7 linked regions of the Homo sapiens genome follow. The protein of the gene in region 2 purifies or fractionates together with the protein of the main gene of each other region. This does not show direct contact. Each region holds a gene or a part of one and is shown on either strand. Other genes may lie near its edges. The genes, in order: DIPK2A, RAB11FIP5, NENF, KLHL8, WDR47, RAB11FIP1 and C1orf198.

What was found.
Region 1: the proteins of RAB11FIP5 (region 2) and DIPK2A purify together in Homo sapiens (co-immunoprecipitation; one study listed by IntAct). This does not show direct contact.
Region 3: the proteins of RAB11FIP5 (region 2) and NENF fractionate together in Homo sapiens (co-fractionation; one large-scale study listed by BioGRID). This does not show direct contact.
Region 4: the proteins of RAB11FIP5 (region 2) and KLHL8 purify together in Homo sapiens (affinity purification with mass spectrometry; one large-scale study listed by BioGRID and IntAct). This does not show direct contact.
Region 5: the proteins of RAB11FIP5 (region 2) and WDR47 purify together in Homo sapiens (affinity purification with mass spectrometry; one large-scale study listed by BioGRID and IntAct). This does not show direct contact.
Region 6: the proteins of RAB11FIP5 (region 2) and RAB11FIP1 purify together in Homo sapiens (affinity purification with western blotting; one study listed by BioGRID). This does not show direct contact.
Region 7: the proteins of RAB11FIP5 (region 2) and C1orf198 fractionate together in Homo sapiens (co-fractionation; one large-scale study listed by BioGRID). This does not show direct contact.

What each region holds. Positions count from the first base shown.
Region 1 is NC_000003.12:143,985,323-143,988,822, reverse strand, and holds part of DIPK2A (divergent protein kinase domain 2A isoform a precursor), read right to left. Parts: intron 3,281-3,500; coding exon 2,977-3,280; intron 1-2,976. UniProt on the Homo sapiens protein: May play a role in cardiomyocyte proliferation through paracrine signaling and activation of the PPI3K-AKT-CDK7 signaling cascade.
Region 2 is NC_000002.12:73,081,949-73,085,448, forward strand, and holds part of RAB11FIP5 (rab11 family-interacting protein 5), read right to left. Parts: intron 1-3,500. UniProt on the Homo sapiens protein: Rab effector involved in protein trafficking from apical recycling endosomes to the apical plasma membrane. Involved in insulin granule exocytosis. May regulate V-ATPase intracellular transport in response to extracellular acidosis.
Region 3 is NC_000001.11:212,442,920-212,446,879, reverse strand, and holds the end of NENF (neudesin precursor), read right to left. Parts: intron 2,542-3,960; coding exon 2,438-2,541; intron 1,051-2,437; coding exon 874-1,050; 3' UTR 501-873; downstream 1-500. UniProt on the Homo sapiens protein: Acts as a neurotrophic factor in postnatal mature neurons enhancing neuronal survival. Promotes cell proliferation and neurogenesis in undifferentiated neural progenitor cells at the embryonic stage and inhibits differentiation of astrocytes.
Region 4 is NC_000004.12:87,182,619-87,186,118, forward strand, and holds part of KLHL8 (kelch-like protein 8), read right to left. Parts: intron 3,182-3,500; coding exon 2,633-3,181; intron 772-2,632; coding exon 585-771; intron 1-584. UniProt on the Homo sapiens protein: Substrate-specific adapter of a BCR (BTB-CUL3-RBX1) E3 ubiquitin ligase complex required for The BCR(KLHL8) ubiquitin ligase complex mediates ubiquitination and degradation of RAPSN.
Region 5 is NC_000001.11:109,035,603-109,039,102, reverse strand, and holds part of WDR47 (WD repeat-containing protein 47), read left to right. Parts: intron 1-3,500.
Region 6 is NC_000008.11:37,858,118-37,861,497, forward strand, and holds the end of RAB11FIP1 (rab11 family-interacting protein 1), read right to left. Parts: 3' UTR 501-3,380; downstream 1-500. UniProt on the Homo sapiens protein: A Rab11 effector protein involved in the endosomal recycling process. Also involved in controlling membrane trafficking along the phagocytic pathway and in phagocytosis. Interaction with RAB14 may function in the process of neurite formation.
Region 7 is NC_000001.11:230,858,522-230,862,021, forward strand, and holds part of C1orf198 (uncharacterized protein C1orf198), read right to left. Parts: intron 1-3,500.

The sequences.
Region 1 (3,500 bases), on a different chromosome or scaffold from region 2:
ATAATTAAGTATATGGGTAAAGTTTAAGGTTCTAATTGGATGACAAGGTATGTACAATTGCCATAATAGTGTCAATATTTTATATATAAACAAAATAAATATAAAGGAGCTATAAGGTATTAGGTGGGCATGTCATATGTACAACTAGAACTAGACTTGAAACTTATGATTTTGAGGTAAGAGGGATATTAGGCAAATTGAGAACACATAAGCACACATGTACTTGAAGGAGTCAAGGCTTGAAAAACAAATAGCTAGCTGTATAGGGAAGAAGGAAGAGACATTTTTGGAAGAGGAAACTGGGAATGCCCAGAAGTGGGCCGATTCATTCAGGAAAACAAGAGGCCATTGTAGCAGAAGCACCAAGGGCAATAGATGGAGGGGTATTAAAAATGAAGCACTCGAAAAACACATATATACACAGGCTGGGCGGGGTGGCTCACATCTGTAATCCCAGCACTTTGAGAGGCCAAGGTGGGAGGACTGCTTAAGCCCACAAGTTTGAGACCAGTCTAGGCAACACAGCGAGATCCCACCCTCTACAAAAAATTTAAAAATTAGCCAGGCATGGTGGTATGTGCCTGTAGTCCCAGCTACTTGGGATGCTGAGGCAGGAAGATCACTTGAGCCAGGGAGGTCAAGGCTGCAGTGAGCCGTGATCACACCACTGCACTCCAGCCTGGGTGACAGAGACCCTGTCTCAAAAAAGAAAAAAAAAAAAGGATCAGAAGAGGGCCAAGTCACACAGATTACAGATTATGCCCTGGCTTTAAGGTGTTTGGATTTTACTTCCAGAACAATGGGAAGTCATTAGAACCATTTAAGCAAAGGAGTAGTAAGTTAATGTTTTTTGAAGGTTACTATTCCAAAAGAAGGAAGGTTACTATTCCAAAGGAGGAAACAACTTCGAGAAGTTGATACTAGTCACAATCACTTCACAAATTTGCCAATTAGGTGGTTGCTAATGGCAAGGCAGAGGTCTACGTCAGGTTTTAATGGACTAAGGAATGAATAGAGGCTGAGGAAGCAGAAAGGCAATAAATACTTTTAAAAACAGTGGACAAGCAAGGAGAAGCAGAAGAGAGTCTTATATATACTTTTTATAGGAAGGCAAGAGAAGTTGGATATTAAAGGAAGGAGGTGGGACACTGAAGAAGATAACTGATGTAACAAGTTCTCAAAGAAGAATCTATCTGTTGCTGTTTTAATGAGGTTTAGATGATAAAGGACACTGGGGGAGTTGCCACAGCAAAATCTCAATTTCCCTGTGAAGAAATAAAATAAAGGTCATTTACTAGAAAGTGGAAAGAAAAGAGAGTAAATGAACAGACAGAGACTTTTGCAAAGTGACTATTTAGAGGACCCATGAGACATTTGAAAAGAAATGACCACAGTTAAAGCAGCACTAGAGCAATGCTCACTGTATGAAATGGAAGAATACAGAAGCTATATGGCTGGATTCATCTAAGGTCAGGAATTAGTAATAATTATTCCAGGAATGTCTGCATAAAATGAATTATAAAAAATTATTGTTATAAACACTGAAATAATTTTTTTAAGCTTAGGAAAATTGCACAACTCTATGAATATACTAAAAACCACCTGCTTGTGTACACTTTAAAAAAGAAAGAATAGTATACGCTGCTACAATATTCACAGATGTAGGAAGAGGTAAATAGAGAGTAGAATACTCCAGCAGGGTGTTCACTTCCTGTAGGAGGATCTACATGGCAAGTCAAGAAATAATCAGAAAAGTGGTCTGGTAAGTATAAAATCTGAAAAAGGGAGTGGGAAAAATCAAGTATTTAATAGGATCATGCCAAGATCATGCAAAAAGTAAATGTCAACCTAATATATGGCTGTCACATAAACTTTTCCCCAGGTGCCGTAAATTTTCAGCCTTTGTTTGTCAAAAGATACTCATATTACTTTTATCAGGGGGAAAGAGGGGATTAAAAAATATAAAACCCTCACCATGGAGCAACAACCCTTTGGTTTTGCTAACTGAATTGGTTCTAGACCTACAGGCTTTGTTCTTGATGCTTTACAACTTCTATGGCATTTAATTTTCTTTAATTTTCTTTTTTTTTTTTTTTTTTTGAGACGGAGTCTCGCTGTTGCCCAGGCTGGAGTGCAGTGGCGCAATCTCGGCTCACTGCAGGCTCCGCCCCCTGGGGTTCACGCCATTCTCCTGCCTCAGCCTCCCGAGTAGCTAGGACTACAGGCGCCCGCCACCTCGCCCGGCTAATTTTTTGTATTTTTAGTAGAGACGGGGTTTCACCGTGTTAGCCAGGATGGTCTCGATCTCCTGACCTCGTGATCCGCCCGCCTCGGCCTCCCAAAGTGCTGGGATTACAGGCGTAAGCCACCGCACCCGGCCGGCATTTAATTTTCAAAACACTTCAGACACTACTCATCTATCCCATGAAGAACTCAAAAGTAAATGGAGAGCAAAGTTTTGGGTGAGATGTAATAATCAGAATGTCAAACCAAACTCAGAGCTGCAGTGCCAGGGATCATCAAAATGGTTAAAAATAAAGTACAAACCATATTTCAAGAACCCATACAACCATTCTGTTTTTCACTTTCAGTACAGAATTCAATATATTACATGAATATAATTATATTCAACAGTTTATTATAAATAGGCTTTGTTTTACACAATTTCCCCCAACTTTAGACTAATGTAAGTGTTCTGAGTATGTCTAAGGTAGGCAAGACTAAGCTATGATGTCCCGTAGGTTAGATATATTTCAAATAACAATATTTTCAACTGACACCGGGTTTATCAAGATGTAACCCCCAGTAAGTCAAAGAGTATCTGTATTTGTTTATTGACAGTGGTCATATAAAGCAAAGAAAGACGCTTAAAGTTGCCATCTAAGGAGGAAATTCAAGGCTCATTTCATACAAGTATAAACATTATTTTGACATAGGAAAAAATGAGTAGAAAAAAATCTAAAATTATATACTTACTTTGTCTAATTAATCTTTTGTCAGCAACCAAAACATTTTCAGCATCCACAATGATTACCTTCCCATCTCTAGGACCAACTGCAAAATTGTCAAAGCTGACGTCCAGGAGGTAGAGTGCAAATTCAAAGTCATTGTTTGTAAGCTGTTCTGCTATTTCCATTAATTGCCAAGCGAGGTCAACTCGTTTTTCCCATGGCGCATTAAAGTAACTCCACAGTTCTTCTCCAACATAATTTACAGCCACCATTCTTCCACAAGCTCCAAGATACTTTGCAAATGGCCAACCTTCATCAGACGGAAAACTCTACAAAAGAATTATCTTAATATTACAAGAGATTCTGATGAAAATATCCTAGGTCTATCCTCAGATCCTTTCAGTAGAGATTGCTACTAGGAATGACTTTGGATTTTCTTATTACATTCAACAGTTTATTAGAGATTAACTTCATTTTTTCCTAACTCATACCAGTACTATGGACCTGAAAAAAATTTAAATAGAGAACTTTACATTATAAAGCTAAAAT
Region 2 (3,500 bases):
TTCTTTCCTCTATCCCATGCTGAAGCTTCTAAGGTTCTACTCAACAAGGAATTTACATCTGGGAAAACTAATCTGAAAGCGCCTTACATCCCTTTTTTTTTTTTTTTTTTTGAGATAGAGTCTCTTGCCCAGGCTGGAGTGCAGTGGCGCGATCTTGGCTCACTGCAACTTCTGCCTCCCAGGCTCAAGCCATTCTTGTGCCTCAGTGTGTGCCACCACACCTGAATAATTTTTGTATTTTTAGGAGAGATGAGGTTTCACCATGTTGGCCAGGCTGGTCTCGAACTCCTGGCCTCGTGATCTGCCCACCTGGCCTCCCAAAGTTCTGGGATTACAAACATGAGCCACTAAGCCTGGCCCCTTTTAGGACTAAAAGCAAAGAAAACACCAGCTGGCATGGGGGGATAAAGAGACCAGAGAAAGGCCAGGCCTAGGTATCTGGCTGGACAAAACCAGAACTTATAGGACCTAGCAGGGCACCTAGAATTCTGACACTTGAAACAGCCTGGGTTCTATTGATCCCTTGCAGAAGCAGAAGTAATGACGGGCTGTCATTGGGTGTGACAAGGTGTCTTGTTTCTTTGAGGGGCAGCCTAACTGGCTAAGGAATATAAGCCACCTGTGGAGAACGTCAACCAAAAGGTGCCCTGATGGTCCAGCCTTTGTCTGCCAAGGCTGGCAGTGTGACAGCAGCAGCAACTCTGGATGTCACCAGGGGCTTCTCAGGGACTCTGGGGACGGGGACAGGGCAGGTGCTCTTAGGACACTGGAGAACAGGTTCTGGCCTTCATCTGTCCAGGACAGGGTCCTTTCTGGGGGAAACGCCCCCTGCACTGGTGCTTATCCACAGAGTGAGGCCGACTCCAGAGATGCGGGCAGGGGCGTGCTCTCAAACTAGAGCTTCTCACTTCCCTAGGACCCAGACAGAAGGCCAGAAAAAATGGCTGCCTTGCCACTGAGCCACCGTCAGAGGCAGACCTCGGTGGCCTCACCCTCTGCCTTCTAAGCAGTCTCCCTCCTCATGGCTGGTCTCCCAGGCCTGGCTCTAAGCTTCCAGGACCCCTGTTCCTTGGCTCCTGCCTGTCCAGGTGGAAATATCCTGGGGAAACCCCTACACATCCGACTTTTCAAGCCAACCAGCTTCTTGCACAGGAAATGTAGACAGTGAGTCCTGAAGGGGCAGAAGCCGGGCTTTGGCCAGCCAGCCCATAAGGAGTGTGGCTTGGGGTAGGAAGGGCACCTGTGGAAAGAGCATGAGCTGTCTGGAGCTTGCCCGGATTCTCCCAGGAACCCAGGGCCCAAAGAGGGCAGACCCACACAGAGGTGGACTGAGGCAGGTCAGCTCGGCAGCTACCACCAGGGGCGGACCACAGGAAGGAGTCCAACTAAACAGAGGCACAGGTAGCTCCAAAGATGGTTCTGGGAGAAGGGAGGTCAGCCTCACAGGTCCCAAACCCAGGGATTTCTCGTAAGAATCAGTTTCCCGAGAGTCTCCTGACCCTATTTTTCCCCTTACAATAACTCCCCATCCAAAGGTAAATTCTCAGTCTCATCCCCTCCACCTAAAGATGGAGGGAGAGGGAGGTAAAAATTCCCACCTGTTCCCACCCCACCTGGGCTTCCACTACTACCCTGCTTCTATGGACATGGTGAAGATACCAAAAGAGGAAGAATCGTGGGCCCAGAGCCTCAACCCCAGCAGATGCCCTTTCTCCCTTCATTCCAGACAAGCCCCAGGCCAAGGCACACATGCCTGCTGTGGGGACCAAGGGGAGTGAGAAGCAACATACACCACCACCAGGTCAAGAGCCTGACCTCAGCCCACTTGCCATTAGTGCATCCATACCACACCCAGCCCAACCCTGTCTACAGGACCCGGGCCCCCAGGAACAGGGCTAGAGCACTCTGAGCTGCTTCTCTCCCCAGCCCCCTTTATGACAATAGGCCACAGTGGTCTGAAGGAAGAGAGTCCCATCAACATTAAAAGCACTACGCTTAACTCTGCCCCCTCAGCCCTAACCTGGCCTGCACTCACCCTTGCAGTCTTTCAGCAACCTGGCTGGCAGTCAGAACTGCAGGGACAAGAGCGGCAGGGGAGTAGACTGGGAGCCTCAGGTTAGGCTCGGCAACCTCCCTCTCCCGGCCAGCTCCCCAGAGGTACACACAAACCTGTTTGTATAGAATCAGCAAAGGGCTCTCCCTGGAGGAAGGGACTCCAAGCACCAGGCCTGGCAGGCTTTACAGAGCCAGCAGTACTTCTGAGGGCATCTGTCCATCCTCCTATCTGGTAACACATCCCTCCTTCATGCCTTCCTCTTCCTTGCTCCACACCAAGTGCACATTCTGAAGGTTCTCACTTCAAAACATCTCCCTCCCACTCCACCTGGCCCAGGTCAGGAACATATTCCCACGTATGCTTGTCTTTGCAGGTCATGCTCTGAGAACAAATAAACACCTCTGCATCCTAGAACCTACTGTGCCGGCCTGGCACACTCTCCCCACCCCCAAGCGGTGGGGGCAGCAATATATGCTGATTTGTCTTCTCTTTTAGGATCAAATGCTGGGAAGGAAGTCAGAAGTCCAGATGTCTCTGCCCCTTCAACCTGAGGGAATAAAACTTTACTGCCTGCAGGAAGCTCTGAACAATTGGTTGAACCTGCCACTCAACACAGGAACCACCTGTTCACCCTGACAGCCCCTCTTCTTAAACACTACACCACAGGGCTACCTCTGTAGCTGAAGGCCAGGTGTCACTAGCAGACAACTCTTCCTTGGGCTGAAAAGAGCTCTGTGTCCTTGTTATTTCCACACACTGGTCCCAGAGATGGCAAGTGAATCTGCACAAGCTCTCTACCAGGCAATCCCCCAAAGGCCGAAGCCAGCCTTGGAGGCACGTTCATCTCTAGCAACACTGCCCTTCAGCCTTCCATCCTGAGGCACGACCTCCTGACCCTCCTGAGATGGGCCCAACGTGCAGGAAACATGTCCAAGAGACGGGTACATCCTCTCCCATCACCTGGGCACAATGAGGTGACAGGGGCCTTGTAAGCTGTAAGTAGGGAGAACGTATCATTTATCTTCCAAACCAGAACACTGTTAATACAGTAACCATGACAAGAGCATGGTTGTGAGGAGCACATGAGGAGAGCAGGACGTGAGGCTGCACTAACTCCAAGCCACTGGGAGCACATTATAGTTACTCATTTACACCACCAAGAATGCAGCCAAGCTCCTTCCGCTGCCACAGCACATTCCAGGCCCACAGGGAGGGACCTTGTTGCCTACCACACCTGGTGCAGGGAGGCACTGCAGAGACTGCCAGAGGCCACCATCATGATACACTCATCTCTATGTTGTACCACACTTATTCCCAACTTTAAAAGTTTTTGTAATCAACATTTGATCCCCTTCTGTGCATAGAGTCCTATGGTTAGTGTGGGGGGCGGGGAACAAGGGAACACAAGGATGACCCGGGATAGACACAAAGACAATCCACTTTG
Region 3 (3,960 bases), on a different chromosome or scaffold from region 2:
TGAAATTTCGGACCGGATGATGCTTTGTCAGGTGCATTACAGAATGTTGACCAGCATCCCTGGCCTCGAGATGCCAGTAGCATCCTGCAGTCATGACAGACAAAAATTAAAAAAAAAAAAATGTTGCCAGACATCACCCAATGTCCCCAGAGGGAAAAATCTGCCCACTCTAACAAAAGGGGCTTCCTCTTAAAATCTGACCTCAGTCCAGCATAAGGAATATGCCTCCCGTTCTTGGAATGACCTCCACCAGGCTCTGCCCACACTGACCCCGGCCCTCCTCACCAATCTCCAGCTGCACGTGCACTGAAGCCAGTTCCCACCCTCACTCCAGCCGGGTTTCCTGGCTCCCTTCCCATCGCCCACCCTCCCACCTCACCACTCTCTTTTCCTGCCCATTGCCTAAATGCCCCACCATCCGGCCCCGCAGGACTATGGAAGAACAACACAGCCCACCCGCTTATGTGGGCTCCAAGGAAATGGCCTCTGGGGAAGAATTCTCCTTTTGTAAAAATGGGACCTTTATTTTTGTTTTGATTATAAAGTGAACATGGTCATGGCTGAAAATCTGTCAAGCACAGAAAAGTATAAAGTAAAGGTCGCTCAAAATTCCACTGCCCAGCCAGCTGATACTGACATCTAGGAGGTGTCCCACTTTGGCTCTTATTGATCCCTGGTGTGCAGACAGGGGTCCCCAGGTAGACAGAACCCCTGACCAAGGACAACAGGAGGCATTTGCTCTTCCAGGGTAAGCATCTGTTTTATTCAGATCTGGGTGGCTCAGGGCCTCCAGGCAGCCAGTTTTGCAGGAGATTCAGCACCTAGTGTCTTCCTGCCTCACGCTCCCAAGAACCTGCTCCTGCAGGGGGAACATCAGAACTCATCCTTGATGTCAAAATGGGGCTGGTCTTCAGGCTTGAAGTCCAGGTTAGGGCTGCCATCCTCATTGAGAATTCTCCGGGCAGTGTAGCCGACGATGGGGTATTTGGCTTTGTACACTTTGGTGAAGACCTCATCCAGGGCCTCCAGTTCCTTGGCCGTGAGACCCGTCTTGGGGAGAAAAGCCCAAGAAAGACAGGAGATGGGGTTAAGTGGATAGTGTTTGGCACTGGCCTTTCTCCATCCCTGCCTTGCCTCCCACATCCCTAATGCAAGAGAAAAGATATCTCAACAAACCAAATAATGGACAAATGGCTTAAGAGACACTGCTGTGGGGGGGGCGTGGGGGTGGGAGGGTATAACATACGGGGAGCAATGCTTCATCACACTTTGTGGTTTGACTGATGGAAGGGATGAAAGACTCCAGAGAGCATGCTGGGGTGGGGCAGGGCATGCCCTATTGCATCTGCATCCCCTTCCTCCCCCCGATTAATCCTCCCTCTCTCTACACTGCTCCCATTATCCCTCTCTCTACACTCCTCCCATTATACATTTGGCACCTTCCCCTTTCTTAAGTTCTTCATTCATTTTTGTAATATTGTTACATTCATTTTGTTATGAGTTTGGCTCATCTCAATTTATCTCAATGTCAGTTTGATGTTGAGCACAGTTAGAGGAAATTCCAGCCTTACTGTTGGAATTATTTAGACCTTGAATAGGTTTAAAAAACAAATTTTTTTTTTTTTGAGATGGAGTCTCACTCTGTTGCCCAGGCTGGAGCACAGTGGCATGATCTCAACTCACTGTAACCTCCGCCCCCTGGATTCGAGCGATTCTCCTGCCTCAACCTCCCAAGTAGCTGGGATTACAGGTGTGCACCACCACACTCAGCTAATTTTTGTATTTTTAGTAGAGACGGGGTTTCTCCATGCTGGCCTGGCTAGTCTCAAACTCCTGACCTCAGGTGATCCACCTGCCTTTGCCTTCCAAAGTGCTGGGATTACAGGCATGATCCACCACTCCTGGCCTAAAAAATGTTTTAATGCTATCTTCTCCTTCACAGAAATATAAGCATAGAGGGAGACCTTTCTTCCCAACCCAGTTCATCCACAAAGCTACCAAGCATGGCCTGGGGAATGGGTCTCAGAGACTAATAGCAAGGCTGTAAGGGGCTGAGGGGATGGGGTGGCAGGTACAGACCATAAGGAGCATTAGGTTGCCAAAGCAGGTTGGGGCCAAATTGTGATGATCACTGAGTTGGATCACAAGTTCATAAGAGTTTGGACTTGACTCTAGGCAACAGACAGCCATGGAAGGTTTCTGAGTCGAGATGACATGGTAGGATAATCTATTTCAAGAAAATGCCTGGCCACCATACCAAGTGGACCGAAGGGTAAATAAGCTAATTAGGAAGGCTTGCTCTTGCCCAGATACACACACACACACACACACACACACACACACACACACACACACACACACGAAAAGAAAAAGAAAAAGAGAAAAAGGCATGGACAAGGAGGTAGAGGATTTTACAAAGGCTTATAATCTGGCTCACAGTGTCATGGGTGAGGTCTGCAGGATCCAAGGACATCTTGGCTACCCCTCTAGTGGAGTCCTTCCCCGTCAAGGCATTGTAGGGGGCTCCTCGTCCATAAAACTCTGTAGTGGGAAGGAAGGAAGAGACGTAAGCGTGGGTTTACATGCAGAGTAACCAGGAGCTTGCACGTGGGGGCGCTCCCAAGGCCCGCACCCAATCCTAAAAAAGACTCCACGCTCACGGAGAGGCCAAACAATGGCGATACAAAGTCCAGTAAGCCACCCCAGCCATCAGGTTGGATTCCACTTACTCTAAATGTGAAGTAAGTCACACATGCAGGCTGAGCAGGGATTTTCAGAAAATATAAAATGAGAATAGTACCCCTACAACCTCTTTTGTTGTTGTTTTTTTTTGACAGGGTCTCACTCTTGCCCAGGCTGGAGTGCAGTGGCACAATCTTGGCTCACTGCAATCTCCACCTCCCGGGTTCAAGCAATTCTCCCACCTCAGCCTCCAGAGTAGCTGGGACTACAGGCATGTGCCACCACCATGCCCAGCTAATTTTTGTATTTTTTTTTTTGAAGAGATGGGGTTTCACCATGTTGCCCAGGCTAGTCTTGAACTCCTGAGCTCACATGATCTGCCCACCTTGGCCTCCTAAAGCGCTGGGATTACAAGCATAAGCCACTGTGCCTAGCCCCCTTCTCGTTCTGTTTTTTCACCTAAGTGTTAATACTGAGAAAATAGTCTCTTAAAAATATTAGAGATGCAGGCTGGGTGCGGTGACTCACGCCTGTAATCCCAGCACTCTGAGAAGCCAAGATGGGCAGATCATTTGAGGTCAGGAGTTCAAGATCAGCCTGGTTAACATGGTGAAACCCCATCTCTACTAAAAATACAAAAATCTGGGCATGGTGGCGTGCACCTGTAATTCCAGTTACTCAGGAGGCTGAGGCAGGAGAATCGTTTGAACCTGGCAGCTGGAGAAGGTCGCATCACTGCACTCTAACCTGGGCGACAGAGCGAGACTGTCTCCAAAAAAAAAATTAAAGATGCAAACAAGAAAAATGTTCCCTCTTCTTAAATGTTGGTGGAAGCCAAATCTATTCCCATTCAGCAGTGTTTGTTATCAAATAATAGATAAACCAATACAAAACTATCTCCAAGATATCATTAGTAGTTACATTAAATGGCACTAAAATGTTCTGTAATGTTCTATAATGCCAACTCTTTACTAAAGAACACTTCTCTCATTGCTTCAACTAGGGTAAATCATTAAGTTTGAATTTAATTCTACAGGCAATGGAAAGTCATGAAAGGCTTTTGAGTAGAAGCATGTCATTATCAGGGGAAAAAAGCCCCTGCTGAAGTAAAACACTGACAAAGATTAACTCAATCTGCTCATTTAAAATGGAAGGAAGGCCAGGTGTGGTGGCTCACACCTGTAATACTAGCACTTTGGGAGGCCGAAGCGGGTGGATCACAAGGTCAGAAGTTCAAGACCAGCCTTGCCAAGATGGTGAAACCCCGTCTCTACTAAA
Region 4 (3,500 bases), on a different chromosome or scaffold from region 2:
AAGCGAACATGAACTATTTTCTTGGGAAAAATTATAAAGTCTAAAAATTGTATCAAATAAAGGTGAAACTGCCTGCCTCCTAAAATATAAGGGCTTTAGACTCTAAGAGTTTAATATAACCCATTATACAAATGTTAGCTATGTTTAGTGCCCTTTTTATTTGGTAAAATGAAAAAACAAATATTTAGATGCACAATATATTTCAAGTTCCATGCTTGGCCCTAGGGATAGAAACCTAAATAAGATACTCAGCTGTCTTTGAAGAACTTAAGACATGTCAAATGAGTAAATGACAATGCAACATAGTAAACCAAGTTCAGAATCGGGAAAGATCTCAAAAGAAGAGATATTTCAGTAGGCTCTTCAGAGTATACAGGACTGATTACGGCTTTTTAAAAAACTGGCTTATTGGTAAAACTAAATAATGTACAGTAAAAATTATAAATATATAAAACCGTATTTGCCAATTATTACTTTAAGGCAATCAGACACTAATTATATTACAACTAAGTTTGGGCACACATGAACAACCCTCAAATACAACAAAGATCCTTCCAGGAGAATTGACAAAATAATTTGGTTACCAGCAGTATGCTTCCTTGGGGTAGTCCGAATGGAGTATTCAAAGTCAGGTACTGCTCTGCTACTCAAGTGAAGGTGGTAATTTCTTGCTTCATCCAGTAAATCTCTACATTTTAGATTTTGCTTGACAATCTGTTCTTTTGCCACAACACCCATAAGAAAATCAACCGGCAACAATGGCAGGCGAACCTAAGATCATGAATAGTTGCAATACAACAAATTTTATATTTTCTTGGGAAAATATAAAGTCTAAAAATTGTATCAAATAAAGGTGAAAACAAGATGAGTAATTCTCCACTTCTACTGCAGCATGTTCTCTTTTTAAAACTTAAGTTGTTACTTCATGAAATGTAACATGTTCATGATTTTCAATGTGCCAAATTATAAGCAATTTCCAGTACTGGTCTGCTCAAATGCAATCAGACTACACGTTAAATTATATCCACCCACTTTAAATATCGGTTTAAATAGGCTTTATAATTGAATTGTCTTCATTCAAATTGCTTACTTCCAAAAACGGTACTGACATAATCACAAGGCCCTTCTATTGATAAAGGCACAATCAAAACAAAAGTGCTGTGCTTTGTTCTTTTGCCTTTTTAAGCTAAGATTAAACATAGGGAAATGTGATTTCTTACTTAAAAATGTAAAAATTCATATCTGAAACAAGTGTTGTTTTCTTCAAATTAATGATCTTGGAAGGGAATATACTAACTTAGGGATGCATCCCCTCTTTCAACAGAGGCATTCACCATTCCTCTATTAAAGATACACTGATTTTCCAGTGGATTAAAGGGGATGATGAAACCAGGTAATGCTATTTTGAGTTAAAAGCACACACACACGTAAGGGGTTGAGTCCAGTCTCTCTCCCCAACTGCAAGACTTCGTTGCAGCAGTCCCTGTATCTATTGTTATGGCCCCCCTTGAACGAAATCTGCCTTACCATCTTAAAGAAAAACACATATACACAAATAAGATATAGCTGCAAGATAATGAAACTTTCTATTTGCTTTGCTGACAAACTTACTTTCAAAATAATTCTGAGAAGATGTAAATGTGTTCTGAACTTTGATACTCATATGAATGCATAAATATTGTGATATGCACTTGAAAAAATGTCTTATCATCATACTCTGAATAGGTTTACTTCATCTGCCTATAAATATCTAAAATGAGAACACTGGTAATTATAAGCACTTTCATTCTTCTTCATTCTTCTTACTATTTGTTTAAGTTTCTGATAATGCTATTAGGAAACTTTGTTATTAAAAATCACGAGAATTATCACTGAGTGCTTTTATCAAGCACTAAGTTTTAACAAAGCATTTAATTTAGAAAAAATAAGTAAATAAGAACACTCTTCTTTTAAGTAGCAAAATGTCATTTTACTTCTCAGGAATAAATGAAGAAAGGAAAAAATGGAGGAAGGGAAGGAGGGAAGGGAGAGAAAGGAGAGGAAGACGACAAAAGAAAAAAAGATCACAAGGGCCTATAATCTTCTTATCCTGGTAACTCCTATTGACAGTAAAAAATAAGAACAGTAACAATGAGACACATTTCTGAGGTTTAAAAAAAGTCAAACTACGGTGAGAGAAGAAAATAGAAGTGATGTCCTATGGTTGTTTACATAATAAATCTATCCACATTAGGAATAACTATACTTTTATTAGCAAAATAATTCATTAAAATTTAGAAACCATTATAAAACAATAATTATAAAGTATATTAATTTAGAGCTATTTCTTCAAACCATTTTCTATTGGCATAAATAAAATATTCATCATTAGTATCCCAAAGGAATATTTTAAATATTCAGGTTAAAAGCAGAGAATGATATTGCTAATTCAAATGTGACAAATTTAGATTCATCCTGAAACAGCACAGCAAGTTAACAGGAAAATTAGAGAGCTAAAAGCCATTTCTATTATTTATTACATCAATAATTTCTATATTCCTTGAAATAATCTACACTTTTCCTAATAAATGAAGCATGTTGATTTGCTTCCATATCACTTCATTTCTGTGTGAAATCTTATTTCAGCTCCTACCTGTGCAAGTGTTTCATCCAACCATTTGGAATGATGCTGAGGATTGGCAAGAAGCCACTTGATGGCAGCATTATAGACCTGCTTTTCATTTTCAATATTTAGATCACTGGAGGACAAAAGCTTATGGAGGTGCTGCGGTGATACACTTACAAAGTCTTCACACTCCACTACTTCAGTAAAATGGTCACAGGCATACTGATCCGCCATGTCCATTAAGTCTATTCGATTGTGACTTTCTGCAAAGGCTCTTACTGCCAGGCAATTGGAGGGATGAAAATGTAACTTCATGTATTCACAACAAGCTCTAGCCACCAGTTCAACCTGCAGAATACAGGCTGCATATAAGAGAGGCTGGACATTGTCAACAGTCAAAGTGAGCCGTGAAGAATAGACAAACTTTACCAAGTCTTCTATTGCATCACCATCAAAATCTCTAATCTCAATCAGCGTTTGCTTGGCTTCAGCCATTTCAGAAAGAAACATGGCTCTAAAGTAGGGAATAACACAAGCCAATACCAGCTTGTGACAAGAGATTAGCTTTGAGCCAACCTGTTCAAAAGAAACCAAGAAAGATTCTGTTTAATATCAAAATCAGCTTCAGGTCAGCATTTAACATGTGTTTGTAGCAGGGACAAAATTTCCAGACAAATTTAGAGTATCTTTTTATAAGGCGATCCTTTGATCACTTACTTTCAAGTAGGCCAGTTTCTTAAAGTCAGGTAATTTTCATATTCCAAATTAACCACATATCATATTCATATATATATATACACATACTTTAAAATTAAAAAAAAATTTTTTTTTTTGAGACAAGGCCTTGCTCTGTTGCCCAGGCTGGAGAGCAGCGGCGCAATCTCAGCTCACTGCA
Region 5 (3,500 bases), on a different chromosome or scaffold from region 2:
AAATGGCTTCAGATGAATATTATCACAAGTAGGAGTTTCTTCATATAGTATGTTTAACATAATTGATCTCAGTGAACTTTCCAATATTTATTTATTTATTTATTTATTATTATTGTTATTATTTGAGATGGGGTCTCGCTCTGTTGCCTAGGCTGGAGTGCAGTGGCGTGATCTCGGCTCACTGCAACCTCCGCCTCCCAAGTTCAAGTGATTCTCCTGCCTCAGCCTCCCAAGTAGCTGGGATTGCAGGTGCACATACCCCCACACTTGACTAATTTTTGTATTTTTAGTAGAGACAGGGTTTCACCATGTTGGCCAGGCTGGTCTTGAATGCCTGACCTCAAGTGATCCACCCAGTTCGGCCTCCCAAAGTGTTGTGATTACAGGCGTGAGCCACTGCACCTGGCCTGTTTATTTATTTTTTGAGACAGGGTCTCACTTTATCGTTCAGGCTGCAGTACAGTGGCATGATGATAGCCCACTGCAGCCTCAAACTCCTGGGCTCAAGTGATCCTCCTACCTCAGCCTCCCGAGTAGCTAGGACTACAGGTGCTTGCCACCACACCTGGCTAATTTTTGTATTTTTTGTAGAGATAGGGTTTTGCCATGTTGCCCAGGCTGGTGTTGAACTCCTAGACTCAAGTGACCTGCCTGCCTTGGCTTCCCAAAGTGCTGGGATTACAGGCATGAGCCACTGCACCTGGCTCGATATTTTTTAAATTACTGAAATATTTTCAAAAATAAGTAAGCTTATTCCAAAGTAAATTTTTATACTTCACAGCACAGTAGCTCTCCCGCAGCAATTCATTAGCAGTCCTTTTGACACATTGTCCTTACCAAGGCTAGGAGCTCTGAAGGGAAGGAATTTACATTTATTGAGCACCAGTTGCATGCTTGCCACTCTGCTAGGAGCTTGTTCTCATTTTACAAGTCAACATCCTGTTTTAACTGAGAAATAGTACTGGGCTGGGCGAGGTGGCTCATACCTGTAATGCGAGCATTTTGGGAGGATGAGGTGGGAGGATTGCTTGAGCCCAGACGTTTGAGACCAGCCTGGGCAACATAGTGAGACCTCATGTCTACAAACAATTAAAAAAAAAATGCTAGCTGAGTGTGGTGGTGCACACCTGTGGTCCTAGCTACTGGGGAGGCTGAGGTGAGAGAATCACTTGAGCCTGGGTGGACAAGGCTCTACCAGCCTGGGAGACAGTGAGACCCAGTCTCAAAGAGAGAGAAAGAAAGAAAGATAGAAAAAAATAGTACTACAAGCAAAAAGACATAAAAATTTTATACTATTTATAATTACTAGTTATGTAGTATGCTTGACATATGTAACTCAAATAATGTTTTTTTCCTATGGCTAAGTACCATGTTTTGTGACTCTTGTTGTTGTGATGAAAAAGAAAATGGAACCTTTTATAAAATCTTTTGAGAAAATTTTATAGAATTGGGTTGGTTTTTTTTTTTTTTTTTTTTGAGACGAGGTCTCGCTCTGTCCCCCAGGCTGGAGTGCAGTGGTGCGATCTCAGCTCACTGCAAGCTCCGCCTCCCAGGTTCATGCCATTCTCCTGCCTCAGCCTCTCTGAGTAGCTGGGATTACAGGCGCCCGCCACCAAGCCCGGCTAATTTTTTATATTTTTAGTAGAGACAGGGTTTCACTGTGGTCTCGATCTCCTGACCTCGTGATCTGCCCACCTCGGCCTCCCAAAGTGCTGGGATTACAAGCGTGAGCCACCACGCCCAGTCTTGTTTTGTTTTTTGTTTTTTTTTTTTTAGACGGAGTTTTGCTCTTGTTGCCCAGGCTGGAGTGTGATGGCGTGATGTCGGCTCACCGCAACCTCTGCCTTCCAGGTTCAAGTGATTCTCCTGCCTCAGCCTCCCTAGTAGCTGGGATTACCGGCATGTGCCACCACGCCTGGCTAATTTTGTATTTTTGGTAGAGACGGGGTTTCTCCATGTTGGTCAGGCTGGTCTTGAACTCCCAACCTCAGGTGATCTGCCTGCCTCGGCCTCCCAAAGTGCTGGGATTACAGGCGTGAGCCACCGCACCTGGCGATTTTCTTTGAAACTTTAAGAAGAGCTTTGGAAATGAAATTCCGGGAAGTGCAAAAACAGCATTTCACAAATAGATGATGATATAAAGAAATTTTAGGTGTATTCATTGTAAAGAGCCTAGATGATGGGAATTGTTAGTTTCACTGTATATAGTTCTTGATCAGACCACACCTGGAGTGTTGTGCTTTATTATTTATTTATTTATTTATTTTGAGATGGAGTCTCACTCTGTCGCCCCAGGCTGTAGTGCAGTGGCATGATCTCGGCTCACTGCAAGCTCCGCCCCGGGGTTCACGCCATTCTCCTGCCTCGGCCTCCTGAGTAGCTGGGACTACAGGCGCCTGCCACCACGCCCAGCTAATTTTTTGTATTGTTAGTAGAGACGGGGTTTCACCGTGTTAGCCAGGATGGTCTCGATCTGCTGACCCCGTGATCCGCTTGCCTCGGCCTTCCAAAGTGGTGAGATTACAGGTGTGAGCCACCGCGCCTGGACTATGTTTTTTTTTTTTTTTTGAGACGGAGTCTTGCTCAGTCGCCCAGGCTGTAGTGCAGTGGTGCCATCTCGGCTCACTGCAACCTTCACCTCCTCCTGGGACTACAGGCGCACGCTACCAAGCCCGGCTAATTTTTGTATTTTTAGTAGAGACGGGATTTCACCATGTTGGCCAGGATGGTCTGGATCTCCTGACTTTGTGATCCACCTGCCTCAGGCTCCTATAGTGCTGGGATTACAGATGTGAGCCACCGCGCCTGGCCTATTTTGGGTTCTTTAGGAGGGGGATTAACAGATATTTAGAGGAGGATGACGGGAGTGGGAAGGGATCTAGAAGCTATCTTCTGGTGAAGAATGGTTTTTGTAAGGATCGATTAGACAATGAATGTAAGATCCTAAAATAGTACCCAGTAGTTTTTGCATTGTAAACAAAGCAGTTAATCCTGTTTTGGGGATTGTACTTTAGTTGGTACCTTTATAGATTAAAACCTTTGAGATCTAATCCTTTAATATGTATATATTTTTCATTTTCATAGTTCTTTTTTGCTTTAAAATTAAAAATTGAGCCAGGCAAGTTGGCATATGTCTATAGTCTTAGCTACTCAAGAGGCTGAGGCAGAAGAATTGCTTGAGCGCAGGAGTTTGAGGCTGTAGTGTGCTATGAACAGGCCCGGCAATAGCAACTACACTGTAGTCTGGGTAGCATAGTAAGACTCCTTCTCTTAAAAAAAAAAAAAAGAAGATACAAAATTAAAAATTGGCTGGGCATAGTGGCTCATGCCTGTAATCCCAGCATTTTGGGAGACCGAGGTGGGTGGATCACCTGAGGTCGGGAGTTCGAGACTAGCCTGGCCAACATGGTGAAACCCCGTCTCTACTAAAAATGCAAAATAGCTGGGTGTGGTGGTGGGCGCCTGTAATCCCAGCTACTCGGGAGGCCAAGGCAGGAGAA
Region 6 (3,380 bases), on a different chromosome or scaffold from region 2:
TTTATTAAGAGATTTAATAAATAAAATAAAATTTATTAAGTGTCTTCATGTCACTACACATGGCAGTCGATGTCCACTTGGAATCACCAGGCCTCTCCACCAAAACCAGGGAGGCCTTCAGGGAAGCTCCCCCATCCCAGCCCAGGAGTCTCACAGGCACCGCCTGCCTCTGTCTCTCTACAATGTGACTCATCTCTAAGAGCAAAGGTATCACTTCCATTCCAAGAGGTCTGGGACCTTGGAGTGTGGACCACGTGCACCGCTCGCGGGGCAGGCACACCTCTCACCTCCTTGGGAAAGGCCTGGGGTTTGGAGAGATGAACTCCAGGAGACTCCTGTGCATCCCTAATACCCTCTATTCACACATGGACAAACTAAGTCAACTGAACAAGGACCTGGTTCCCAGATGGGGCAGTTGAGCCCAGCCTGAATTCAACTCATGCCCCCAAAGTGAAGACATCACTCTGTGGGAACCTGTGTGTGTGGTGGGGGTGGGAACTGAGGAAAGACCCTGTCCAAATGCTCAGCCAAGGGTACCGGCTGCAAAGGAAAAGGGGGCAGCACGTTCCAACTCAGTTTCTCTGGCCAGTGCCATGGTCCCTCAGGCCAAGATGAAGGGTGCATCCGAAGGGACCAGACATGTCCGTCCTCTTTGAGAAAAAGGGCCTTGGGACTCCTGGGAACCAGGCAAGATGGCAGCAACAGAAATCCCAGTGAGAGACCCTCATGGGATGAGAAACACTGGTCATCCCCCCACCCCCACCAAGAGAGGTTTTCCAGGAAGACAAAATAAATTTTTATTGCACCCATACCAAACTACAGACACAAATCTTTGAAAGGTAAGTACCATTTTATTTAGTGTTGTAGGAAATGTTGGGTTACTTCTTAAAAACGAAACCAAAGAAATTCAAAAGTCCCAAAGAAAGAAAGCAGGAAATAATAATTCTATAATCCAAAAACGTTGGGCGATCCTTCAGTTGGAGGAAGAGGGCGTCAGTTAAGTAGCTCACACAGTAGATATGGAGACACCATATGGAGATACGGAGTTAAGTTTGGTGGATACTAGGAATTAAGTTCTCCACCTAAGGCAATTAATTTTTCAGCCTTGAGAGATAATTAGTAGTTCTAGAAAAAGAAAAAAAGTTGACTGGGAGAAGGGTGGGAGGGAGGATGGTGCGTCATTTAACATTAAATTGCCTCTCTCTACAGTATGTGGCTGAGCATCATGGACCTTCCTCCCTCTGCCCCGTTGAGCTCCCACTGTTAGCAAAACTGAGAAGCACATGCCTGTGTCTTCTTCATACCGGCATGTGCACACACACCTGTATCTCCTTCATACAGGCATATGCAGAGCCCTCACCAATCGGGGTCCACAGCTGTTCAGTATGGCAAAGGGCAGACTTACTCCTTCATCCACTCTGCTGCCTTGATGAGGTGAACACACTGGAATAAGATGGAGGGCAGGATACCTGCCAAAGCCTGAGGCATGAGATGATCTGAAACAATTGGGCAAAGGCTGGACATTTCAAAAAGCTGACTTCCAACTGCAGTTTATGGGTATAGAATTTGATGCTTCCCTCAAGTCCTGACTGCTCTTTCTGAGGCAGCCAGGCTAGGCCAAGAAATGAGCTGCTCCAGCTTCTCCAGAGCACAGCAGCCTCCCAGGGCCTGTCAGCATCTGCAGCAGCTGGAAGGAGGTCCCAGCTCTTCTGAGACATAGGCCATTTGTAGGATTCTCCAGTGCTCCAATTCACTAATGTCTCCTAATGGCTCAGAACAGGCTAAAGCTTCTCCCAGATAACCCCTCCCCCAAAACTGAGTCCTCAGGGACAGTTGTTAACTGAATGACCTCCAGGTTATCTACTTTGGGAGGTGCAGGAATGCTATAAACTGAATTTTTTCCCAGCAGCAGCAGAAGCCAGGCACCCTTGAGTCAATTGTCCTTCATTGTCCAGAGCTACCAAGTGGCATTTCAGAGCACAGGAATTTACTCCTCCACCCAGATGTCCCTCTCATATGGACTGAGTCACACACCCCAGGTCCTAGCAGCAGACATCTCCAAACCAACATCCTTGTGAACACTGCAGATCTCTACGCCAGCTCTCCAATGGAAGAAGAACCACATAGAGCACACCTGCCCCCCAGGGCACTTGGACTATCACAGTAAAAATACATTTATATCAAGTAAAAAACATAATGCAGGACAAATATATACATGTACCTTTTCTTTCTTTCTTTTTTTTGAGACAGAGTCTCGCCCGTTGCCCAGGCTGGAGTGCAATGATGTGATCTCAGCTCACTGCAACCTCCACCTCCCTGGCTCAAGCGATTCTTGTGCCTCAGCCTCCCGAGCAGCTGAGATTACAGCTGTCTGCCACCACACCCAGCTAATTTCTGTATTTTTTAGTAGAGACGGGGTTTTGCCATGTTGGCCAGGCTGGTCTCGAACTCCTGACCTCAATCAAGTGATTCACCCGCCTCAGCCTCCCAAAGTGCTGGGATTACAGGCGTGAGCCACCGCGTCCAGCCATACATGTACATTTTCAGAGTTCAAGTGAACATACAGTTTTCTTTATAAGTATGTAAATAAATTTCATAGCACTACAAAAATACAAGTCATCTGAGAAGTTTACAGTGGTCCCAGTACTGTAGGAGAGAATTAAATAAAATAAAATAGCTGTAGATAATTAAAAGCTAATTAGATAAATCAAGTTACAGTATCATCCTTCAGATTAAAGTGCTCTGATATAACCAATGCCACAGCAAACGAAATCCTGGAAAGAGATTGCACTGCCAATGATTTTGTCTCTTAACCTCAATGTAACAAGGACACACATAAAAGAGATTCCTGATTTAATAACTGCTATCATCTTCACCCCCAACCACGCTATTAGCCTGTGATATTCTTCCCCTAGGAGAGATGTCAAGATTAGATGAGATTCTATCATAGCCAGGGAAAAAAATGAGAAATACCAGAAACATTCTAATTCCAGTCTTAAGTGAGTAACAACAAAATTACCTGAAAAATCTCAGCTGGTGCTTTTAGCTAAGAAGGAAGCAAGTGCCCTAGTTAAAAAAAAAAAAAGTCTATAAATCTAGTTTTAAAAATACAAATTCAAAAATAAGTATCATCTTCTTGCTCTGCACAGTTTTATAACAAGGGGGTAAAATGCTGGTGAGTCTATTCATGAGGGAAAATGGAAAAAAAGCAACCATTTGAAGGCTGAGGCACCTGTTTTCTACTGACTTTTAACTTTTATTAACTACATTAAGCCCTTCACTACAATTTCCCCAGTATCCCACAAATAATTTGGGTTTCCTTTTGGGCAGGGAGAGAAAGTGTTCAAAGGACAGACATGCAGATGCAGTTCAATCCCTTT
Region 7 (3,500 bases), on a different chromosome or scaffold from region 2:
CATCCACAGGGTAGAGTAGAGATCCAGCTTTGGATCTTTCGAAAAAGGTAAATGGAAATCAACTGGCAAAGGTGCTCCTTCCATCCAGAATCAGACAGGCCACTGGCCACCCAAATGGAAAGAGGAAGTGCATGAACACCTGCGGGGCAGGCAGAGGGCAGGACCACTGACTGGCCAGGGTGGGGCATGATGGAGCTGGACTCCCCTGTTACTCGATATGATTCTAAATATTAATTATATACCTTAAGTCCCTTTGAAATCTGCAAAGATTAAAATAATAAGGCTTTTGGCTTTGGAAGGTGGCTCAATACAACACTCTGAGGAACGAAGACTTAGCCCAGAGCTTGGGGACAGTCAACTCTCCAGTGACTGCAACCCATATTAGCTGAAATTCCAAGGGGGTCACAGGAGGAGAAAGGGTCACACTGTGATTTCTCCCCTACTTAGTGTCGAGTCAATAGTCTTCTGTTTGCTCCAGCAAGAAATGAAGTCAAGGGGCAGATTCCTTGGGTTTCTGTAATTCTGAGCTCATAAAAAACAATAAAGTGCTTAACAAAAATAAACATGCCAAACAAAAATGTGATGGAAGCTCTGATGTCAGCCGTGGACTGCACGCTCTAGCCACAAAAAAGCACTGGCGGCAAGAACAGGCTCCCTGGGCTGTTGGATGCAAATGGAATCAGAATTGCAAAGTGGCGGCACCCACTCACACGCATACAATGCTGTCCTTTCTTCTACTCCCATGGTGACCAGCCTGCAACCAAAATGAGGCCAGGCACATGCTTTTGGACCAATCACATATGCTTTTTCTAGGACTGCTTGGAAGGCTTTCCCACCCCCCTCTCTGGCGCCTAGGATCTGAAATCATCTAAGTGTCAAAACACATCTGTTACTTAGGCCACACGACAAGAGAGTGGGCTTCATTGTTGGCCAGGACTTATCCTCAGAGTCAAATTCCGTAAGAGGCATCCATACCAAATGGGCAGCACTGAATCTCTCCAGAAACAATGACTTCTTTGGAGTGCAGAACAGAAAGATGCCCCAGGTCACCAAATCCCAGAGCAGAAAGCCAAAAAGCAGGGGGGAAGCTATAGAAAGCCACCAGAAACACAGAGCACTTGGCAATTATCAGAGGCCAGCGCTACATGTAAGAGGCTCTGCCAGTCCCCACGCAGCTCCAAGGACTCCGGGATAAACACACACACAAACAATCTTTTTCCCTAACATCCCAGAGACCTTGAGTATTTGCTCTTCTCTGGGAAATGTTCATTCAATTCAGTGTGCACCTCCTAAATCCTAAATGAAACAGAATTAAAAATAATAACATATATTTTTTGCTCATAGTGCTGGAATACATGTTTGCATCATATCGCCAGCGTTTACTTCTTTACTTGTTGATAAAAAAAATGGATACTGGAGGGCTTAAGAACTCTGTGGTTCCTAGACACTTTTATTTTTGGAGGCTGCAAGGCTGCAACCAGAGGTGTGTTGGAGCAGGCCTGCACCAACTAACGAGAGCTGATTGTAAAATTTTGAGGAATTTCTTGAACCTGTTGTTAAATATCTTGTTTAACTGCTGTGATTAAAAAGGTGAATTATACAAACTTGCAATTAAGTCCATTGTATTAAAAATAAAGGTAATATACTTCACACCCACAAGGATGGCTACTATCAAAAAGCAGATACTGGCAAGTATTGGTAGGATGTGGAGGCACTGGAACCCTTGTGCACTCTTGGTGGGAATGTAAATGATGCAGCCATTATATAAAACGGTTCGGCAGTTCCTCAAAAAATTACACATACAATTACCATTTGTTCTAGCAATTTCATTCCTAGGTATACACCCGAAAGAACTGGAAGCAGGGGCTCAGAGATCCTTATACCCCGATGTTTATAGCTGTGCCATTCACAATAGCCAAAAGATGAAAGCAACCAGGTATCCACTGACAGATGATGAATGCATAAACAAAATGTGGTCTATCCATCCAATGGAATATTATTCAGTCTTAAAAAGGAAGGAAATTCTGATACATGCTTCAACATGGATGAACCTTGAAGACATTATGCTTAGTGAACTAAGCCAGACACAAGGATAAAAATCATGTGATTCCACTTATATAAGGTACCTAGAGTAGGCAAAATCATAGAGACAGAAAGTAGAATAGAGGTTATCAGAGACTGAGGCCAGGAAATGGGGAGTTATTGTTTAATATATACAGAGTTTCATTGTTTAAAGGATATAGTTTCACTTTAAATAATACACGAGTTCTGGAAATGGATGGTGGTGATGATTGCACAACATTGAGACTGTACTAAATGCCTCGGACTATACACAGAAAAGTGGTTAAAACGGTAAATTTTATGTTGTATGTATTTTACCACAATAAAAAGTCATGGAAAGACATGGAGGAACCTCAAATGAATATTATTAAGTGGAAGAAGCCAATCTAAAAAGGCTACATATTGTATGATTCCAGCTATATGATATTCTGGAAAAGGCAAAACTACAGAGACAGTAAAAAGATCAGTGGCTGCCAGAGCCTGGGGGGCGGGAGGCATGAGCAGGTGGCACACAGAGGATTTCTGTTAAGGCAATGGATCCCCTCTGTATGATACCATCATGGCGTATACCTCCAAGAGCGACCCCTAGTGTAAACCAGAGACTTCGGTTGACAATGATAAAAACAATGCAGGTTCACTGATTGTAATCAGTGCACCACTCTGGTTTAGGATGTTGGTGGTGGGAAAGGCTGTGTGCATATGCACGTCTGTGTGTACATTTTGGGAAAGGTCTGTGTGGGAACTCTCTGTACTTTCCGCTCAATTTTGCTGGAACCTAAAACTACTGTAAAAACTGAATTTTTTTAAAGTGTGCCCCCCCCAAAAAAAGTAATAAACACTAGAAACTCATCATTTCAATACAGTTACTATTATCCATGGTCTTAAGGTTGTTTGCATCCATTGTATGTGTAAGGTGGAAATACCATATAGCGCGGTGCCCAGATATGCATCCCGTGAGTCACGCCAACAGCGTGCAACGGGCCATGGTGGAGTATCTGGTCATGGCAACCAGCAAATGCTAGAAGTCAGGGCTAGTTCGCCTCACTCCCCCAGAGCCGGCTCCAGCATACCACAGGCTACAACCATAACAAACATCCTGATATTCATCACATTCTGCAAGTGTTTCTGGTGTGTGGATGGATAGCGCCTGCAGAGGGAGCTGTCCAGCATGGGGGCTCCCTTAGGGCCTCCACAAGCTGTTCCAGGAAAAACAGCTAGGCGGGGAGTGAGGGGCTTTCTGGGGTGATTCTAAAACAGCATCAGGATCTTGGAACACGGCAACACGCGTATTGATGCCAGAAATGGTCATCGTCTTCCTGAAATCCATAAATAAGGAGAGTTTCTGGTTGACACCTGTGGCATCTTGGCTTGAAGGTAAGAAATGTAAACTGAGAAATTCTATAAGCTAGAGAAATAAGGCTTAGAGAGCAGAGCATGTG